Homo sapiens: one gene and its partners. The protein of the gene in region 1 purifies or fractionates together with the protein of each later gene. This does not show direct contact. Each region holds a gene or a part of one and is shown in the gene's direction. Other genes may lie near its edges.

Evidence for each region.
Region 2: the proteins of ZNF695 (region 1) and HECTD1 purify together in Homo sapiens (co-immunoprecipitation; 3 studies listed by BioGRID and IntAct, with this or other methods). This does not show direct contact.
Region 3: the proteins of ZNF695 (region 1) and ZYG11A purify together in Homo sapiens (affinity purification with mass spectrometry; 2 studies listed by BioGRID and IntAct, with this or other methods). This does not show direct contact.

Annotation. Positions count from the first base shown.
Region 1 is NC_000001.11:247,005,024-247,012,621, reverse strand, and holds the start of ZNF695 (zinc finger protein 695), read left to right. Parts: upstream 1-4,564; 5' UTR 4,565-4,713; coding exon 4,714-4,716; intron 4,717-7,598. UniProt on the Homo sapiens protein: May be involved in transcriptional regulation.
Region 2 is NC_000014.9:31,197,688-31,204,796, reverse strand, and holds part of HECTD1 (E3 ubiquitin-protein ligase HECTD1), read left to right. Parts: intron 1-7,109. UniProt on the Homo sapiens protein: E3 ubiquitin-protein ligase which accepts ubiquitin from an E2 ubiquitin-conjugating enzyme in the form of a thioester and then directly transfers the ubiquitin to targeted substrates.
Region 3 is NC_000001.11:52,852,680-52,859,788, forward strand, and holds part of ZYG11A (protein zyg-11 homolog A), read left to right. Parts: intron 1-1,785; coding exon 1,786-1,951; intron 1,952-4,318; coding exon 4,319-5,070; intron 5,071-7,109. UniProt on the Homo sapiens protein: Probably acts as a target recruitment subunit in an E3 ubiquitin ligase complex ZYGA-CUL2-elongin BC.

The DNA of each region.
Region 1 (7,598 bases):
AACAACAACAAAAAAGACTAAAAGAATGAACTACATTAAACTTAAAAAACTGCATGTCAAAGGAAACATTCAGTGGAGTCAAAATCCCACCTAAGGAATGAGAGAAAATATTTGAAAAGCAAATATCTGACAGGATATATATAAACAACTACAAAAACTAAACAAAGAAAAAGCAAATAATGCCATTTAAAAGTGGGCAAAAAACTGACCAGTGATATACAAATCCTTAGAAAAATGCAAAGCAGCCAGGCGCAATGGCTCACACCTATAATAAAAATACAAAAATTAGGCCGGGCGCGGTGGTTCACGTCTGTAATCCCAGCACTTTGGGAGGCCGAGGCGGGCAGATCACGAGGTCAGGAGATCGAGACCATCGTGGCTAACATGGTGAAACCCCGTCTCTACTAAAAATACAAAAAATTAGCTGGGCTTGGTGGCGGGCACCTGTAGTCCCAGCTACTGGGGAGGCTGAGGCAGGAGAATGGCGTGAACCCGGGAGGCGGAGCTTTCAGTGAGCCGAGATCGCGCCCCTGCACTCCAGCCTGGGCGACAGAGCGAGACTCCGTCTCAAAAAAAACAAAAACAAAACAAAACAAAACAAAAAAAATTAGTTGGGTGTGTTGGCAGGTAGGTGCCTGTAGTCCCAGCTACTCGGGAGACTGAAGTGGGAGGTTCAGTTGAGCCCAGGAGGTTGAGGCTGCAGTGAGCCAAGATTGCACTACTTCACTCCAGCCTGGGTGAAAGAGTAAGACCCTGCCTCAAAAAAATAAATAAATAAATAAATAAAATAAAAATGTAAAGCAAATCTACCAGATTTCCTTTGCTAACACCCATTACATGGCCACTATCAAGCAAATAAAGAACCCACAAATGGTCTCTAGGATGTGGAGAAACTGAGACCTCTGTGCACTGCTAGTGGGGAAATATTGATCCAGCTACTATAAAAAATAGTACAGAAGTTTCTCTCTCTCTTTTTTTTTTTTTTTCTTTTTGAGACAGAGTTTTGCTCTGTTGCCCAGGCTGGAGTGCAATGGTGTGATCTTGGCTCACTGCAACCTCCGCCTCCCATGTTCAAGTGATTCTCCTGCCTCAGCCTCCCTATAGATGGGATTACAGGCACACGCCACCACACCCGGCTAATTTTTGCATTTTTAGTAGAGACGGGGTTTCGCTATGTTGGCCAGGCTGGTCTCGAACTCCTGACCTCAGGTGATCTGCCCTCCTCGGCCTCCCAAAGTGCTGGGATTACAGGCGTGAGCCACCGCACCCGGCCGTACGGAGGTTTCTCAAACGGAATTATTATATGATATAGCGATTCCACTTCTGGGTGTCTATCCAAAATATGCAAAGCAGGACCTGAAAAACTTACCTGCACACCCATGTTTATTGCAGGAATATTCATGAAAGCGGAAACGTGGACGCAACCCAAGTGTTCTTTGATGAATGAATGCATAAAGAAAATGTGGCATCTGGCCAGGCGCGGTGGCTCACCCCTGTAATCCCAGCACTTTGGGAGGCCGAGGCGGGCCAATCACGAGGTCAGGAGATCGAGACCATCCTGGCTAACACGGTGAAACCCCGTCTCTACTAAAAATACAAAAAATTATCTGGGCATGGTGGCACGCGCCTGTAGTCCCAGCTACTCGGGAGGCTGAGGCAGGAGAATCACTTGAACCCAGGAGGTGGAGGTTGCAGTGAGCTGAGATCACGCCGCTGCACTCCAGCCTGGGCGACAGAGCGTGACTCCATCTCAAAAAAGAGAATAGTAACAACCGATTCAGAAATATGAAACAGATTGAGTATTTTTCCCAAAGAAGACATACAAATGGCCAACAGGCATATAAAAAGGTACTCAACATCACCAGTCATCCCACTAAAAACACACGTCACTCAAATTCTAAAAAGGAATTACATTAAATATAACAAGTATTTGTACAAGAATATTTATAGATCTTTTGTTCATAAAAACCCAAAATAGGAAACAACCCGAATGTCCATCAACAGAAAAATGGTTCAGCAAATTGTAGAGCGGATATTCATACAACAGGATGCTACCCAGCAGTACGAAGACACAAGCCACTGAAGCACACACCCTGACTGCATCTCACAAGCTGGGTATATGAGACAAAGTGGAATAAAATGCATATTGTATGGCTTCAGGCAAAAATGAACCTAGAGTGAAAATAAATCAACACAGCCTCTGAAAGTAGAAAAAAACTGCCTGGGAAGAAATACGAGGAAGTTTTCTGAGAATGATGAAAATATTCCATTCTTAAAAGGGGTGAAGCTTATATGGGTATATTTTATTTTTTAAAAACTGTACATTTAAGATTTGTGCCTTTCAATGTGTGTACATCTGACCTCATGCAAAAAAAAAAGGAACTAAAAAAATACAGCAGTGGGTGCAGAATGGGTTGAAGCATAGATGAAAGAAAAATGGCACAAGATGAGTAGTTCTTGAATCAGGGTGACGGGTCTATTATACTATTTCGTTTATTTTGTATATGGCTAAAATTTTCTGTAATAAAACGCTTGTATGAAAAGGCAAAAGTGATGTACAATGTTAGCTCTTAAGATCTTTAAATGAACCAGTTGTGGTGGTTGTGTGCCTGTAGTCCCAACTACTCAGTTGGCTGAGGTAGGAGGATCGCTAGAGCATCTTCAGCCTGGGTGAAAGGGTTAGACTCTGTCTCAAAAAAAGAAAAAAAAAATCGGCAGGGCACAGTGGCTCACGCCTGTAATCCCAGCACTTTGGGAGGCCAAGGCGGGTGCATCACCTGAGGTCAGGAGTTCGAGACCAGGCTGGCCTATATGGTAAAACCCTGTCTCTACTAAAAATACAAAAATTAGCCGGGTGTGGTGGCAGGCGCCTGTAATCCCAGCTACTCGGGAGGCTGAGGCAGCAGAATCGCTCGATTCCGGGAGGTGGAGGTTGCAGTGAGTCAAGATCGCGCCATTGCACTCCAGCCTGGGGGACAAGAGCGAGACTTCGTCTTAAAATAATAATAATAATAATAATAATAATAATAATAATAATAATCTTACTTACCACTGGGGAGGTAGATAAGGGAGGCAGATAGTAATTGTTGGGATATGAGTGATGCTGGTTCTATTTCTTGGTTATACAACTGTATTTGCTTTGTAATAACTCACAGAGCTTTACATGAATGCTTTGTATTTTTTTGTATGTGTGTTGTGTATCAAAAAAATTATTATATATTTTTACATAAATCCTAACTTAGAATCTCAGAATAACAGTAGTGTTTTATTTTGTTTGAAGTGAGACACACTCACCCATGATACCATCAAATGACTTTAAATATTCTGAGCTATTCATTCATGTTGTAACCTTGGGTGCTCCCCTAGGTCTTTTCAGTTTTACTCCAATTTGGAAAGTGGAATGGTTTCAATCTGGGGGGATGCAACTTTTTCCCAGCAAAGTCCTCTCCCCACAATGATGTTCACCAAGGCCAGGGCAGCTAGTACAGTGCCCTGTGCATAGCAGGGCAGTTGTAGAACTGGGCTGAATCAGAAACAAAATTAGTAGCAACCACTGGTTCAAGGTAAGAGATGCATTAACTGTGCATGAATTCCATATGTGTTGTGAGGGTTTGCCCCATGGCCAGTCCAGGGTTTAGGTCTTAGAAAATAGCTTTGCCCTGTTAAGAACCAAAGAATGACTTCAAGACATACTCAGCTGTTTGGCTAAATTTCTGCAGGAGGAAATGTCTTCACAGCCGATTTTTTTGTTTTGTTTTGTTTTTGTTTTTGAGATGGAGTTTTCCTCTTATTACCCAAGCTGGAGTGCAAAGGCATGATCTCGGCTCACTGTAACCTCCGCTTCCCAGGCTCACGCGAGTCTCCTGCCTCAGTCTCCTGAGTAGCTGGGATTACAGGCGACCACCACCACTCCTGGCTAATTTTTAAAAATACTTTTAGCAGAGACGGGGTTTCGCCATACTGGCCAGGCTGGTCTCAAACTCCTGGCCTCATGTGATCCTCCCTCCTCAGCCTCCCCAAGTGCTGGGATCACAGGCGTAAGCCACCACGACCCGCCAGATCCTAGAAAATTTTAAATGACACGCGTGGCTCACCTTTTATTTATATTGCATATTGCTGCCTGAGAGGATTGCCTCACTTTCCACAGCTCAGGCTGCCTGGTCAAAAGACCAGAGGCCCGGAAGGTTATGAAATCGGAAACTTTAAAATAATTATCATTCATTGTTTCTATTTGTGAAATATATATGTGTGTGTGTGTGTGTGTGTGTGTGTGTGTGTAAAACTTATGAATGGATATAATCTTATATACAAGGTTAAATGCCATTATCCCCCAGGCAGGTGGGTCCAGGTCGAAGTGCCGTGAGGAATGTCGCTTCAAAAGGGCTGCACCCAAAAACCTGTCACTCTTGTTTCATTCGGCCCAGTGTCTGATCGCACCTCCTGTCACTCAAGACCTGAGGGGGTGGGGCCTGGAGCCCCATCCAGTCAGCGGCGCTAGCGTGAGAACTGTCCAATCAGGCGTGCAGCCAGAGAGGAAGGGGCGGCCTTGGGGATCTGGCGGGGCCTTTGTCTCCTTGCGGCCGGCGGGGTGCTGGGTTCCCGTCTGCTGCCTCTCGGAGAGTCCCGGGTGACTGCCGCAGGCTCCATCGCCCTGTGGCCTGCAGGTATTGCGAGATTTATAGGGAGGACGCTGGGACCCCCAAAAGCTGGGAAATGGTGAGTGTGCGGAGCAGGGTGTCCCGAGAAGGGAGAGGGGGTGGTTGGAATCGGTTGGAATTGGCTGGAACCAGCGCTGGCGGCCCCGGGCCTCCCGGCGGTCGGCTCCGGAGTGTGCGGCCGAGTCCCGCTGGCGCAGCTCGGCCCTCAGTCCCGTCCCGCGCAGGTGGGGGCCGGGCCGGCAGCGGGATCCCGGCCGCTGGGTGACTGTCCGGTCTCTGCCTGGTGACTTCGGCACGGCCCAGAGCCCTCCCGGGGCAGCCCCGCGCCCGCAGCGCCGCGTCTTCCCTGGATTGTGCTGTGATGACGGAGGGGTTGTCGGGAGAGTCCCGACTCCCGTGAAAGGTTCCTGGGTGGGAGGAGCTGTGGTCTGTGGGTTCCTTTCTCCTCTTTTTTTTTTTTTTTTTTTTTGAGACGGAGTCTCGCCCTGTCGCCAGGCTGGAGTTCGGTGGCTCGATCTCGGCTCACCGCAACCTCTGCCTCCCAGGTTCAAGCGATTCTCCTGCCTCAGCCTCCCGAGTAGCTGGAATTACAGGCGCCCACCACCACGCCCAGCTAATTTTTGTATTTTTATTAGAAACGGAGATTTCACCATGTTGGTGTCGATCTCTTGACCTCGTGATCCGCCCGCCTCGGCCTCCCAAAGTGCTGGGATTACAGGCGTGAGCCACCGCGCCCGGTCTCCTTTCTCCTCTTAAAAAAATAAACTGAAGCACCTTTGAAATGTTAAGGAGTTTATTCCAGCAAACAGTGATTTATGAATCTGGAAGCCCCTAGCCCTGGTTTGGGGCTAAACTTGAAGGGAAGGTCTTCATAAGGTGCACGAGGAAGCAACCACGTTTAATAATTGATCGGTTGCCATTATGCAGTCACCTTATTTGGACTGTCCAGGATGAAATTTCCTGATTATGTAATAAGAGATTTATTAGCATTTAGTGGTTGGTTAAGCCTACGTTTTGTTTTTCTCCAAGTTTGCAATTTACAAGAAATTCATCTAAGTTAGCTAGGATTCCTTAGATAGAATCCCAGGACATCAAAGCCACTCAGTCTAATTGTCTGCCATTTAAGTATTCTAACACTCCACAGGGGAACTGGTTTTCCCAGCATTTTTCAAATGTATGGCAAGCAGGACCTCAAATCCAGGACTCTGTTCCCCCAGCCTAACTGTTTTAGGGCCTGAAGGAAATCTTGTTTCCAGTTTCTTTTCTACATTCCCAAATGCTAACTTTGTCTCTCCAAACACAACATTATCAACTATTTGTTCTTTTTATTTATTTATTTTTTTTGAGACGAAGTCTCACTCTGTTGCCCAATGGCAGGTAAGCTGAAGTGCAGTGGCACAATCTGGGCTCACTGCAACCTCCACCTCCCAGGTTCAAGCGATTCTCCTGCGTCAGCCTCCTGGTAGCTGGGAATACAGGCAGGCGCCACCATGCCCGGCTAATTTTTGTATTTTTAGTAGAGATGGGGTTTCATTATGTTGGCCAGGCTGCCCTCGAACTCCTGACCTCGTGATCCGCCCGCCTCAGCCTCCCAAAGTGCTGGGATTACAGGCATGAACCACCGCGCCCGGCTTATTTGTCCTTTATTTGCTTTTCAAACAGATGCAAGATTTTAACGGTTCTTTTTTGTTTTTTTCACAGTGCAATGAATGGGCTTTTTTTTTTTTTCTTTTTTTTTTGAGACAGAGTCTCGCTCTGTCGCCCAGGCTGGAGTGCAATGGTGCAATCTTGGCTCACAGCAACCTCTGCCTCCCGGGTTCAAGCGATACTCCTGTCTCAGCCTCCCGAGTAGCTGGGACCACAGGCGTGTGCCACTATGCCTGGCTAATTTTTGGTATTTTTTGTAGAGACAGGGTTTCACCCTGTTAGCCAGGATGATCTCGATCTCCTGACCTTGTGATCCTCCCGCCTCGGCCTCCCAAAGTGCTGGGATTACAGGCTTGAGCCACCGTGCCCAGCCATGAGTGGCTTTTTAAAAAATATTTTCTTTCTGTTCTGAACATTTCACATGAGAAGAAAGCAGAGAATAATCACTTGACACTCTGCTGTAAAATCTTTACTCAGCCAGTGTCCTGGATAGTTTCCTTGATGTTTTCTGTTCATAGTTTGAGGTCTTAGATTTACGTCTTTAATCCATTTTGATTTGATTTTTTGTATATGCCTAGAGACGGGGGCCAAGTTTTTTTGTTGTTGTTTTTTATCGTTTTTTTTGTTTGTTTGTTTTGTTTTGTTTTGTTTTGAGACAGTCTCACTCTGTCATCCCCTGGGCTCAGGCTATTCTCGTGCCTCAGCCTCCCGAGTAAACTGGGACCACAGGTGCAGGCCACCACAGCTAGCTAACTTTTGTATTTTAATAGAGACAGGGTTTCACTGTGTTGGCCAGGCTGGTCGGACTCCTTGGCCAGGCTGGTCTCGAACTCCTGGCCTCAAGTGACCCTGCTGCTTTGGCCTCCCACAGTGCTGAGATTACATGCATGAGCCACCACACCCGGCCAAGGGGTCAAGTTTTATTCTTCTGCATATGAATATCCATTTTTCCCAGCACAACTTATTGAGAGACTGTTGTTTCCCCCAAAGTATGTTCTTGGTGCCTCTGTCACAGATTAATTTGCTGTAGATGTATGGATTTTTTTCTTGGTTCTTTATTTTGTTCCATAGAGCTATGTGTCTTGTTTTATGCTAGTACCATGCTGTTTTTGTTGCTATAGCTCTGTAATATAATCTGAAGTCAAGTAGAGTAATTCTTCCAGTTTTTTCCTTTTTGTTCAGGATGGCTTTGGCTATTCTTAGTCTTTTGTGGTTCCAAAAAAATTTTAGGCTTAGTTTTTCTATTTCTCTGAAGAATGTCATTGGTATTTTGGTAGGTATTACACAGAGTTT
Region 2 (7,109 bases), on another chromosome or scaffold:
CCTTACTAATAAAATTTCCAAATTACAATTAGTTAGTGGTCCATTTATTTCCATTAGTTTTTGTCATTGGCAGAATTTTGAGTATGTAAGAATAACTTAGCCCTTAGTTGACACTTGTTTTAGCAGGATTTATAGTAAAGTAGATTTTTTAAAATTTATTTTTATTTTTTATTTTTTTCCTCATCCTGACTCTCAAGTTAAAAATTGCGTTCATAGATTTCATTAGAGGTAACCTGAAAGTTACTTTTGGTATTTTAAAAATCATACTTGTCAGTCAAGTCAATTGTCATTTCGTAGCTTCTGTTTAGTACTAATATGTAGTAGAAGTATTTGTTATGACATTTAAAAAAGTGTTGCCCGATCATTAAAAAGTCAGGAAACAACAGGTGCTGGAGAGGATGTGGAGAAATAGGAACACTTTTACACTGTTGGTGGGACTGACTGTAAACTAGTTCAACCATTGTGGAAAACAGTGTGGCGATTCCTCAAGGATCTAGAACTAGAAATACCGTTTGACCCAGCAATCCCATTACTGGGTATATACCCAAAGGATTATAATAATCATGCTGCTATAAAGACACATGCACACGTATGTTTATTGTGTCACTATTCACAATAGCAAAGACTTGGAACCAACCCAAATGTCGATCGATGATAGACTGGATTAAGCAAACGTGGCACATATACACCATGGAATACTATGCAGCCATAAAAAATGATGAGTTCATGTCCTTTGTAGGGACATGGATGGAGCTGGAAACCATCATTCTCAGCAAGCTATCGCAAGGACAAAACACCAAATGCATGTTCTCACTCATAGGTGGGAATTGAACAATGAGAACACTTGGACACAGGAAGGGGAACATCACACACCGGGGGCTGTTGTGGGGTAGGGGGAGGGGGGAGGGATAGCATTAGGAGATATACCTAATGTAAATGACAAGTTAATGGGTGCAGCACACCAATATGGCACATGTATACATATGTAACAAACCTGCACGTTGAGCACATGTACCCTAAAACTTAAAGTATAATAAAAAAAAAAAGTGTTGCCATGTTAAAACAATTTAAATGAAATTTTTAAAACATAAAATTTATCTCTATGTAAAATCCTTCCATCCTAACATAACAGCTGTTATTTTTTCCATTTTCCTTTCTAGGCTTTATTCATATATAGTATGATGTAATTTTTAAGAGACTGGGGCCTCACTATGTTGCCCAGTCTGGCCTCGAGCTCCTGGGTTCAAGCGATTCTCCTGCCTCGGCCTCTTCAGTAGCTGGGACTATAGGCTGTGCCACCACACCTGGCTTTATAATGTAATTTTAAGGAAATGAACCTAAAGTTAAGTCAGATATGATTTACTATATGAAGATACAAGAGTATTTCAAGTTGAAGGGGTTAGCCGTGTTTGGGGTAGTGTACCAGTAACCTCCAAAAACTAGACATTTGGTTTAATTTTGTGACTGTTTTGTTTTTAAACATTAGTTTGCTTTTCATTCTATAGCCAGATTTTCTTGTTGTTACAAGGGAAAATTGTCCTGGTTCCTTCTTGAAACTAGTGAGGGAGGCATAGTGAGATGGAAAGAATGGGCTGTGGCATCAGAGACTTGGGTTCAGATTCTTGGTCTGTTGTGTTCATTAGCCTCTGAGAGCCTTACTTTCTTCCCCTGTAAAATGGCAGTAGTCTTTTTTTCTTTTCTGTTTTTTCATATGAAGTCTTGCTCTGTTGCCCAGGCTGGAGTGCAGTGGTGCGATCTTGGTTCACTGCAACCTCCGCCTCCCAGGTTCAAGTGATTCTCCTGCTTCAGCCTCCCGAGTAGCTGGGACAACAGGTGCGTGCCACCATACCTGGCTAATTTTTGTATTTTTAGTAGAGATGGGGTTTCACCATGTTGACCAGGATGGTCTCCATCTCTTGATCTCCTGATCCACCTGCCTTAGCCTCCCAAAGTGCTGGGGTTACAGGTGTGAGCCACCATGCCCAGCCAGTAGTCTTTTTTCCAGTGGGCCTTCTTGTGAGGATTAAAGGAGAGAATGTATGTTAAGTGTTTTGAGTAAAGTGGGCTACCCACTGATGCCATCATTAATAAATATCTAATTTTGAATTTTATTTTAGCACTTTATTCCATGAATAAAGTGATTGATTTGGAAAGGTCTTTTAAAATTCTTTTAAACAATCAACTCCCAGCAGGCAAAAAAAGCAAGATGATGTGCATATTTTGAATATTGGTAAAAATCTTTCATACTACCTTGATTTCATAAAGTAGTAGCAAATAGGACTTAGTTCTGTCTAATAAACCAAAACATGCCTGTATGTCCTGATAATATGTTTGCTTAATTAGCTTGTCTTAATAGTTTCACATCTGTTTAGTCAGGAAAGGCAGGTGGTGTGGTAGAAACAGTGGCCTCTGCAATGGGATAGACTTGGGTTCAGATACCTGCCTTTTCCACTGAATAGTTGTGTGATAGCCTTTGAAGTCTGTTTCCTCATCCTTGCAGGATTTTTCTGAAAATAAATGGGATAATAGTCAAGGATTTCTTTTTCCTTTAACTTAGTATTGTACATGGCTCTCCACTTTTTTTTTTTTTTTTTTTTGAGGCAGAGTCTCGCTCTGTCACCCAGGCTGGAGCGCAGTGCTATTTTAGCCATGCCCAGCTAATTTTTGTATTTTTAGTAGAAACGAGGTTTCACTGTGTTAGCCAGGATGGTCTCAATCTCCTGACCTTGTGATCCACCCATCTCAGCCTCCCAAAGTGCCGGAATTACAGGCGTGAGCCACCGCGCCCGGCCGGCTCTCCACTGTTTGTACCCATTTTGACAGTGTCTTTCTGAAGTTCAACGAATATAACTTCTTCTATGATGTGTCAGTGCTTCTTATTAATGCCTGAACTTATCAAGGTAATGCTCCAGAAAGTAAAACACGTTCAAGATTCGTTTTTGCTTTTACCTGATGTATCGAGTTCTAAAATGTAGTAATGTAAACATGGCCGGGTGCGGTGGCTCATGCCTGTAATCCCAGCACTTTGGGAGGCTGAAGTGGGCAGATCACTTGAGGTCAGGAGTTCAAGACCAGCCTGGCAAACATGGTGAAACCCCATCTCAACTAAAAATACAAAATTTAGCTGAGCACTGTGGCATGTGCCTGTAATCCCAGCTACTTGGGAGGCTGAGGCAGGAGAATCTCTTGAACCTGGGAGCCGGAGGTTGCAGTGAACCAAGATTGTGCCATTGCACTCCAGCCTCGGTGACAGAGTGAGACCGTGCCTCCAAAAAAAAAAAAAAAAGTAAGTAATAGTAATATGAGTTATTAGCTAATGAGCATTTTGTATTCACATCAAAATAGGTGATCATCATATGTATTAATGTTATAAATATGTATTATGGGCATTTCTAGATCTTGCTACTAAATCTGAATATAATTTGAAAGTTATGTCCTCTGGAAATTGAGCATCTCAGAAGATGCTTTTAGGTGCTAGTAGGCTTTATTTAAAAAATAATGATGTCACTTAATTTTGAGGGCACAAAAGGATATACAGTAAAAAGTCCGTTGTCTTCCCTTTCCTGTCTCCTGGTTACTTGGTTCCTCTTCCCAGAGGAAACCACTGTTAATCATTTCCTAGTGTATCCTTCAAGAGATATCCAAGGAACATTGTTTTGAGTCTGGATTCCAAAGTTATTGAACACAGTGGTAAAAAAATCTTTTTTGATATGTTTACACTAAAAGGTAAAAAAATACCTGTACAGGAACAAGTTTTTTAACTTTAAATTGTCTACTTTATGTTAGGTCTTGGAAAGATATGGTGATGACCAAAACAAATACAGCACCTTATGTGCCTAATAGTCTAATAGGGAAAACAGATAATTGTGGGGAAAAAATGTGGTTACAAACTGTGTTAAATGTCATGAAGGAAAAGCTCAGGGTACTGTGACAGCATGAAGCAGGGACAAGACCTGGAGAGGTGGGGATGGGCAGAGTGGTCTTTGGGGAAGTGGTTTTTCTTTTTTTTTTTTTCAAGACAAGAGTCTTGCTCTGTCACCCATGCTGGAGTGTAATAGCGTGATCTGAGCTCACTGCAACCTCCACCTCCCAGGTTCAAGTGATTCTCCTGCCTCAGCCGCCCCAGTAACTGGAATTACATGCACACGCCACCATGCCTGGCTACTTTTTGTATTTTTAAGTAGAGATCGGGTTTCACTATGTTGGCCAGGCTGGTCTCGAATTCCTGACCTCAAGTGATCCGCCCGCCTTGGCCTCCCAAAGTGCTGGGATTACAGGTGTGACCTTTTTTTTTTTTTTTTTTTTTTAAATTAGATGGAGACAAGGTCTCACTAGGTTCCCCAGGCTGATCTAGAACTCCTGAGCTTAAGTGATCCTCCCGCCTTGGCCTTCCAGAGTGCTGGGATTACAGGCGTGAGCCACCGTGCCTGGCCAAGAAAGGGGAAGTGGTTTTTCCTAGAGCTAGGAAGGATGAGTAAGGAGAGATAGGAAGTGGGAACAAAACAAACAAATGCTTGTAGACTTGATAGGAGGCTATGATCCAGAGAGATAGAGGGTTTTGTGATAAAAGTAGAAAGTTGAATATATTTGAGAGAGATTTGGAAGGCAAGATAGTCAGGATTTGTCGAATGATTAAATATGAGAGAGGGAGAAGGAAGTGTCGTGGATGACTCAGGTTACAATGGATGATGATGCCACTCACTGAGAGAGAACACTGGAAAGAGGACCATGTTTGAGAGATTGAGATCATGAGTTTGGGTTTGGATATGTTGAGTATGAGGTACTTTTGAGACATCTCAGTGGAGATATTAAGTAAGCAGTTGTATAAATGGAAATTGGAGGTGAAGCCTGGATTAGAGAAAAATTTTAGAGTCAAGCACCTGTGGAGGTTAATTGTGGCCATGGGATGTGATTGAGATCTAGGGCAGTGATGCTTAAACTCTATGGTCTCAGGACTTCCTTAAGCTCTTAAAAATTATTGTGGATCCTGAAGAACTTTTGTTTATGTTAGTATGCTTACTGCTATTTGCCATATTCAGAATGAAACTGGGAAGTTGTTTTTTTTTTTTTTTTTTTTTTTTTGAGATGGAGTCTTGCTCTGTCACCCAGGCTGGAGTGCAGTGGCACAATCTTGGCTCACTGCAACCTCTGCCTCCTGGGTTCAAGTGATTCTCCAGCATCAGCCTCCCTAGTAGCTGGGATTACAGGTGTGCGCCACCGTGTCCAGCTAATTTTTGTAGTTTTAGTAGAGACGGAGTTTCACCATGTTGGCCAGGCTGATCTTGAACTCCTGACCTCAGGTCAGAACCCAGGAGGCGGAGCTTGCAGTGAGCCGAGATCGCCCCACTGCACTCCAGCCTGGGCGACAGAGCAAGACTCTGTCTCAAAAAAAAAAAAAAAAATTATAATAATAAACCCCTTACATGTTAAAATTTTTTTGTGAAAAATAACTTTTTTAAAAGAAAACATTTTGGGAGAATAGAGGCATTAATTTACATTTTTGCAAATCTCCTTAAAGTCTGCCTTAATGGAAGATAGCTGGATTCTCATATCTGCTTCTGCATTCAGTTTGTTGCATTATGTTATTTTGATTGAAATATATGAAAAAATCATCCACAGATGTATTTGGGAAAGGGAAGAAGAATATTATATTTTTTAACGTAATCATGGATATGCTTCTTTGATAACATGTCAAAATTCAACAAGTGATAGTTTCTTAAGGATTAGTTATAATGTGGATTCTGTTTTTTTTTTTTTTTTTTTCTTCGAGGCAGATTCTCGCACCCAGGTTGGAGTGTAGTGGTGCGATCTTGGCTCACTGCAACCTCCACCTCCTAGATTCAAGCAGTTCTCCCGCCTTAGCCTCCTGAGTAGCTGGGACTACAGGCGCAGACAACCACACTGGAATAATTTTTTTTATTTTTAGTATTTTATGTTGGTCAGGCTGGCCTCGAACTCCTTACCTCAAGTGATGCACCTGCCTTGGCCTCCCAAAGTACTGGATTACAGGCATGAGCCACTGCACCCTACCAGGATTAGTTATAATGTGGATTCTGATATCATATCAGTGAACTTATACTCACTCTGTTACATTAAAATCTGATGGTCTGTCTTATACTTTGAGTGACTGTTTTACCCATGTTTACTTTTGCAAAAATTATGCATTGGTCATGTGGAAAATATCAGTCCACTGAGTTACACAGATTTTCCAAATGTGGACATATCTCATTCCACAGTGCCAAAAAGTCTTATTTGTCAATATGACTACCACTCTCATCAGACAAGTTTTTAAATATTCAGAAGCTTTCAAGCTCATGGTGTCAAATACAAGTTTTCCAAAAATGTCATTTTTGCTTGTAAAGTTGAGTGTTATGATTGGCAACAAATACAGTTGATCGTTTTCCTTGAAATGAAAGGCATACGTGATTAAATTTTGAAAAAATGTTTGCCAGATAGCCAAGTCTGAATGATCAGTTTGTCTGATAGTCCTTCAAGTAAAAATGGTGTTGCAAGAAAAAAGTGGCTAGTTCAGTCCTCAAGTATGTACTTTGCCATTATTCTTCCGTATGCAGTGCTTTATAATTAATTCCCATTTCCTTTAAGTAGAATATTGAAAAGATGTATCTTCAGGGGTTGAGATTTAGTAAATTTAATAATTTTGCTTCATCTAGTTTATTCTTTAGTGAAACTGGCTTTTTTCTTAATACCAGTGCTTGGCAGTGAAGAATACAGTTATCTAGTACAGGTTAGGGCTACTGCCTTGATTCATGTTAAAGCACCTGCAGTTTTATCCACTATTGCTTTTGCATCATTAGTGCGCATGTCAACACAGGAAAGAAAGTGATTCAAGAAGAGAAAGGGCAATTGTTTTGAATACTAGTGAGAGGTCAAGTAGGGGTTAGATGAAAAGATGTCCTTTAGATTTAGCAACATTCTCAAGGTCATTGATCTTAATGAGAGCTGAGTGGAGTGGTGGTGAGGGGCAGATCTGAATGGGTTGAGGAGTGAGTGGAACATGAAATGGAGGACATGTGGAAACTTTTTTGAAGAATTGAATTGGAAAAGGAGTGTGGGGTTTTTTCTTTTAAAGGTCAAAGAGATAAGAAAGA
Region 3 (7,109 bases), about 190 Mb from region 1:
GAAAGGCATTTTTTGCCTTATGATAGGGTTATATACCAATAAAACCCTTGTAAATTTAAAATATTCTAAGTTCAAAATGCATTTAAGACACCTAAACTATCAAATATAGGTTAGTCTGGCCTACCTTAAATGTGCTCAGAACTCTTATATTAGCCTACAGTCGAGGAAAATCATCTAACACAAAGCCCATTTCATTATAGTGTTGAATATCTCGTGGAATTTATTGATACTGACAGTGAAAAACAGTGGTCATATGTGTACTCACTGTAAACATACACAGTTGAAAGCACTCTGGGCCTGAAGAATGTTTGAAGCATTGAACTAAAAGTTAATTGCTGGATTATGGAGAAGCTACATCAACAGGGTCACCAGTTGCTCTTCTAAGCATTGGAGCCCATTGACACTTGTTGATGGTTTAGCAGGCATAGTGTTCAAGAAGATATCAAGTATTGGTTGTTTACCCTTGTGATCGTGTGGCTGACTGGGAGCTGCAGCTCACTCTGCTGACCAGCATTGAAAGAGTATCATATTATGTCACTAGCCTGGGAAGAGATCAAAACTCAAAATTTGAAGTATGGTTTCTACTTTATACCGTTGTAATTCCAAAAATCATGAGTCAGGGACTATCTGTACATGCCTTTATAGCCTCACCTTACTGTCAGTTTCTTACACTTTCATAGGACCTTGACTGTATCACTGTTTGAGGTTGTGAACAGTTTTGAGAATAGACACATGATAATCAATGAATACATATTTTTTGAGTGAATGACCATGTAATCTCTGCTTGGAGTGTCCCAAATGTTGCATTGAAATTGTCAGATTTCTTGTTTGTATTCTTCACTAAACTTTAGCTTTAAAGGGACTAGAACCATGTCTTACCCACCTCTGTATTTTCAGTGGCTAGCACAGAACAGGTGATAAGTAAAGGGTTAAGAGAACTTAATATTGGGGCCGGGTGTGGTGGCTCATGCCTGTAATCCAGCACTTGGGGAAGCTGAAGTGGGAGGATCTCTTGATACCATGAGTTTCGAGACTGGCTTGGACAACAAAGTGGGACTCTATAATAAACCTACAAAAAATTAGCTGGGCATGGTGGCATGGGCTTGTAGTCCCAGTTACTCAGGAGGCTGAGTGGAAGGATCACCTGACTGGGGAAGTCAAAGTTGCATTCGGCTGTGATTGTGCCACTGCACTCCAGCCTAGGCGATAGTGAGACCCTGTTTCAAAAAAAAGAAAAAAAGAACTTAATGTTTTTCAAGATACAGTATGTTCTCTCTGACTACGGGTTCAGTATATGTGAATTCAGCCAACTTTGGATGGAAAATATTTGGGGAAAAATACCTGCATCTGTATTGAACATGTACAGACTTTTTTCTTGTCATTATGTAAACAATACAGTATAAAGGATTTATACTGTATTAGTGTTTATAAGTAATTTAGAAATGATTTGTAGTATATGAGAATGTCTGCATAGGTTATATGCAAACCTTACACCATTTTATATAAGGAGACTTGAGCATCTGTGGATACTGGTCAGAGAGTTCTGGAACCAATCTCCTACAGATTTTGAGGGACAGCTGTACAACAGAAAGGACAACAGATTAAATTTTCCATTCAGTTAACAGTAGGAATGAGGTGGTTTCGTTACATATAAATCATTACTAGAGTATGAAGGATGTATCTTCAGATACTCTCATCAAGTGGAATAGGTATGGCATGACCAGTTTTATGTTGAATTGTTGCAGATGTATTCTAACAAAGTTTGTTTGGGGTTTTGTTTGCTAGGAAGAGGCATCTCCCTACACTTTGGTCAACATCTGCCTGAATGTCCTGATTGCTAACCTGGAGAAATTGTGTTCTGAAAGACCTGATGGAACACTGTGCCTTCCGGAGCATTGGAGTTTCCCTCAGGAAGTAGCCGAGCGATTTCTCAGGGTGATGACTTGGCAAGGTAGTGATAAGGCTTCTCTAAAGTCAGCTCTTGCAGTACTTTACTATTTGAAAAGCACTTTTACACACAATTTCTATTGTGATTCTCACAAAGTATTTCCATTTCATTTGTCTGGAAGTTGAGACTCACTCTTTCTGGGATTCCATGATGGAAATTGTCTTCTAGGCTAGCCCTGCTATTGACTTGGTTTTCCACTCTTCACTTACGTAAAGTTATCACTCATCCATCTGCTCTCTAGCTTTGTTTTTTTTTTTGAGACGGATTTTCACCCTTGTCGCCAAGGCTGGAGTGTAGTGGCACAATCTTTGCTCACTGCAGCCTCCGCCTGGGTTTAAGCGATTCTCCTGCCTCAGCCTCCTGAGTAGCTGGGATTACAGGCGCCCACCACACCTGGCTGATTTTTGTATTTTTAGTAGAGATGGGGTTTCACCACTTTGGTCAGGCTGGTCTTGAACTCCTGAGTTCAGATGATCCGTCTGCCTTGGCTTCCCAAAGTGCTGGGATTACAGACATGAGCCACTGTGCCCGGCCTGCTCTCTAGCTTTTTCAAAATGCTCTTGCTGTAGTCTTGTTTACCATTCTTTTCATTATGGTTATGAGTCTTACCTCCCATTGTAGCTGGGCTTAAAGAACTCCACTAAAAAAATAAAGGAAAAAAAGGGCATTTTATTATTTATTTATTTATAACCTGGGATTACAGATGTGAGTCACCATGTCCGGTCATAATTTTTGTATTTTTAGTAGAGATGGGGTTTCACCATGTTGGCCAGGCTGGTCTCAAACTCTTGACCTCAAGTGGTCTGCCTGCCTCGGCCTCCCAAAGTGCTGGGATTACAGGCGTGAGGCACCGTGCCTGGCCCATAATCAATTTTAGAACCTCAAACTTTCCATCACCTCAGAAAGAAACCTTGTGCCCGTTAGATTTTATTTCCCTTTTCCCGCATCCCTCCAGCCCTAAGCAACCACAAGTCTACTTTCCATCTCTATGTATGGATTTGCCTATTCTGAACATTTAATATAAATTAAATCATCCAATATGTGGCCTTGTGTGCCGAACTTTTTTCATTTAGCATGTTTAAGGCTCACATTGTGCAACATGTATATCTGTACTCGTTCCTTTTTATAGTCGCATATTCTACTGTATGGACATACCACATTGTATTTATCTGTTTTTCGGTTGATGGACATTTGTGGTGTTCTCACTTTTGGGCTATTATGAATAATATGCTACCATAAAGATATGTGTACAAATTTTATTTTTAAACTTAAAAAATTTATTCTAAACTTTCTCTGCTCCATATGAATCTGCAGGAATGTGTAAGAGTTTCTATGTGGACATAAGTTTTCATTTCTCTGAGTGAAATTGCTGGATCAAATGGTAACTCATTATCTTTTTGAGGAACTGCCAGACTATTGTTTGTGGCTGTACTATTTTACATTCCCATCAGCAGTGTCCAAGGGTTCTAATTTCTCCACGTTCTCACCAAGACTCATCTGACATTTTGATTATAGCCATCCTAGTGGATGTGAAATAGTATCTGTTGTGCTTTTAATTTGCATTTCTTTAATGACTTATGGTGTTGGTATTTACCTGGTATGCCTCCCTATACTGAATTCCTTGTGGTCACAGGTGTCTGATTACCTTACGTGCCTGTTACATAACATGGAATCTCACCATAGAAGATGTGTAGTAGGCCAGGTGCAGTGCCTGTAGTCCCAGCTACTTGGGAGGCTGAGGCAAGGGAATCGCTTGAACTTGGGAAGCGGAGGTTGCAGTGAGCCCCCACTGCACTCCAGCCTGGGTGACAGAGCAAGACTCCATCTCAAAAAAAAAAAAAAAAAAAAAAATATGTGTAGTAAATGAAAAATAGGACAACCCATTCGTTTTACAGATGAGGAAAATGAGGCCCAGAGAGGTAAGTGACTTGTCAAATATTATCTACTAATTTGGTTAAAAATAATATTAGTAGTGCTACTTGTATATTGTATATCCTGTACTTATCTACCTATTTTATTTTGTTCTTCCTTTCTGTGAGCAAGGTTACTGTAGATAAAATTTTGGGCTCTACAGCCAAACTGGGGTTGACTCCTGATTCTGATGGTGACCTTGGATAAATTACTTAACCTATTCAAGTTTCAGTTTCCTCAGCTACATAGTAGTAGTAACAATAATTCCTTTATAGTATTAATGCAAAGAATACATGAGATAATAATCTTATTAAAGGAGTTTAGAACAATGCTAGCACAGAGCAGTAAATGTTGTCATTATTGTTATTATTAACATCTGTCTTAATTCTTTGCCACATTTTATCCTGGAAAGACATGAGATCTAGTTGTCATTACAAGTTGGTTCTGGTTCTTTCATAGGCAAGCTGACTGACAGAACAGCCAGCATTTTCCGAGGCAACCAAATGAAACTGAAGCTGGTCAATATCCAAAAAGCTAAAATCTCTACAGCTGCATTCATAAAAGCCTTCTGCCGTCATAAGCTCATTGAACTGAATGCTACTGCAGTGCACGCTGACCTCCCAGTTCCAGACATCATAAGTGGACTCTGCAGCAATAGGTGGATCCAGCAAAACCTCCAGTGTCTCCTGTTAGACTCGACAAGCATCCCTCAAAATTCAAGATTACTGTTCTTTAGTCAGCTCACTGGTCTTCGCATTTTAAGTGTTTTTAATGTTTGTTTTCATACTGAAGACCTGGCTAATGTTTCTCAGTTACCAAGACTGGAAAGCTTAGATATCTCTAATACTCTAGTCACTGATATTTCTGCACTGCTTACCTGTAAGGATCGATTGAAGTCTCTCACAATGCACTATCTGAAATGCCTGGCCATGACCAAATCACAAATTCTTGCAGTCATTAGAGAACTTAAATGTCTGCTTCACCTTGATATTTCTGATCACAGGCAACTCAAATCAGACCTAGCTTTTCATTTGCTACAGCAGAAGGATATCCTGCCCAATGTTGTGTCATTGGATATTTCTGGGGGCAATTGCATCACTGATGAAGCTGTAGAACTGTTTATACGACTGCGGCCTGCCATGCAATTTGTGGGACTATTGGCCACGGATGCTGGCTCTTCTGACTTCTTTACTACAAAGCAAGGCTTGAGGGTTTGTTCTTATCTGAATAAGTTTTGTTTCATTTGTTTAGAACATTATTAAACTCGTGCTATAGACCAGACTTTTTACTAGGTATTAGGGTTACAGAGACAGATAAAAAAATCCTTAAAGAGCTTTTTTAATAATTAATGATTATTATGTACCTACTATGTGGAAGGTTGTGAGAATATTATTATTATTTTTTGAGATGGAGTAGTTTTGTATTTTTAATAGAGATTGGGTTTCTTCATGTTGGTCAGGCTGGTCTCGAACGCCTGACCTCAGGTGATCTGCTTGCCTCGGCTTCCCAAAGTGCTGGGATCATAGGCATGAGCCACTGTGCCTGGCCACACGTGAGAATATAATATTAAGATACAGGCTGGGCATGGTGGCTCACACCTGTAATCCCAGCACTTTGGGAGGCCAAGGCGGGCAGATCACTTGAGGTCAGGAGTCCGAGACCAGCCTGGCCAACATGGTGAAACCTGGTCTCTACTAAAAATACAAAAATTAGCCGGTGTGTTGGCGGGCGCCTGTAGTCCCAGCTACTTGGGAGGCTGAGGCAGGAGAATCACTTGAACCTGGGAGGTGGAGGTTGCACCACTGCACTCCAGCCTGGCCAAAAGCGAAACGCAGTCTCAAAAAAAAAAGAAGATATAGTGGGTTCAAGTGATTCTCCTGCCTCGGCTTCCCGAGTAGCTGGGACTACAGGCACGTGCCACCATGCCCAGCTAGTTTTTTATTTTTAGTAGAGACGGGGTTTCACCATGTTGGCCGGGCTGGTCTCGAACTCCTAACCTCAGGTGATCCGCCTGCCTCGGCCTCCCAAAGTGCTGGGATTATAGGCATGAACCACTGCGCCCGGCCCGATTATTATTATTATTTTTTTTTGGAGACTGAGTTGTGCTCTTGTTGCCCAGGGTGGAGTGCAATGGCGCAATCTCGGCTCACTGCAACCTTCGCCTCCCGGGTTCAAGCGATTCTCCTGCCTCAGCTTCCCGAATAGCTGGGATTACAGGTGTGCACCACCACACCTGGCTAATTTTTTGTATTTTTAGTAGAGGCAGAGTTTCACTATGTTGGTCAGGCTGGTCTCGAACTCCCAGACCTCAGGTGATCCACCTGCCTTGGGCTCCCAAAGTGCTGGGATTACAGGCATGAGCCACCATGCTTGGCCCAGAGCTGTTGTTTTAAAGTAACTCTTTCTTTATAATAATACCTCCTTAGTTCTTCCTAGGGGAAGAGAATAAAGTGATTTGTATACTCATTAGTTGTGTTAACATTTTATTCTTTTGATTTGAAGTTAGCAATTGTTGTATTTTAATTAATTAATTAATTAATTTTTTATTGAGACAGAGTCACTCTGTTGTTCAGGATGGAGTGCAGTGGCACAATCTTGGCTCACTGCAACCTCTGCTGTGAGCTGAGATCCCCAAATTTTTTTTGGGACAGTCGAGTCCTGCTCTGTCGCCCAGGCTGGAGTGCAGTGGTCCGATCTTGGCTCACCACCAAGGATTATCTCTTCCCCCCTTGGATAAACTTGGCATCTTTGTTGAAAATCGGGTGTCCGTATATGTGTGAGTCTGTTACTGGGCTCTTTATTTTTTATTTTTTTTGAGACGGAGTCTTGCTCTGTCGCCCAGGCTGGAGTGCAGTGACACGATCTCTGCTCACTGCAATCTCCGCCTCCCGGGTTCACGCCATTCTCCTGCCTCAGGCTCCAGAGTAGCTGGGACTATAGGCACCCACCACCACGCCTGGCTAATTTTTTGTATTTTTAGTAGAGATGGTGTTTCACCGTGTTAGCCAGGATAGTCTCGATCTCCTGACCTCGTGATCTGCCTGCCTCATCCTTCCAAAGTGCTAGGATTACAGGTGTGAGCCACCACGCCCAGCTGGGCTCTTTATTTTTATCTGTTTGTGTATTGCCTTTTTTTTTTTTTTTTTTTTTTTTTTTTGAGACAGAGTCTCGGTCTGTCACCCAGGCTGGAGTGCAGTGGTGTGATCTCGGCTCACTGCAACCTCTGCCTCCCGGGTTCAAGTGATTCTCC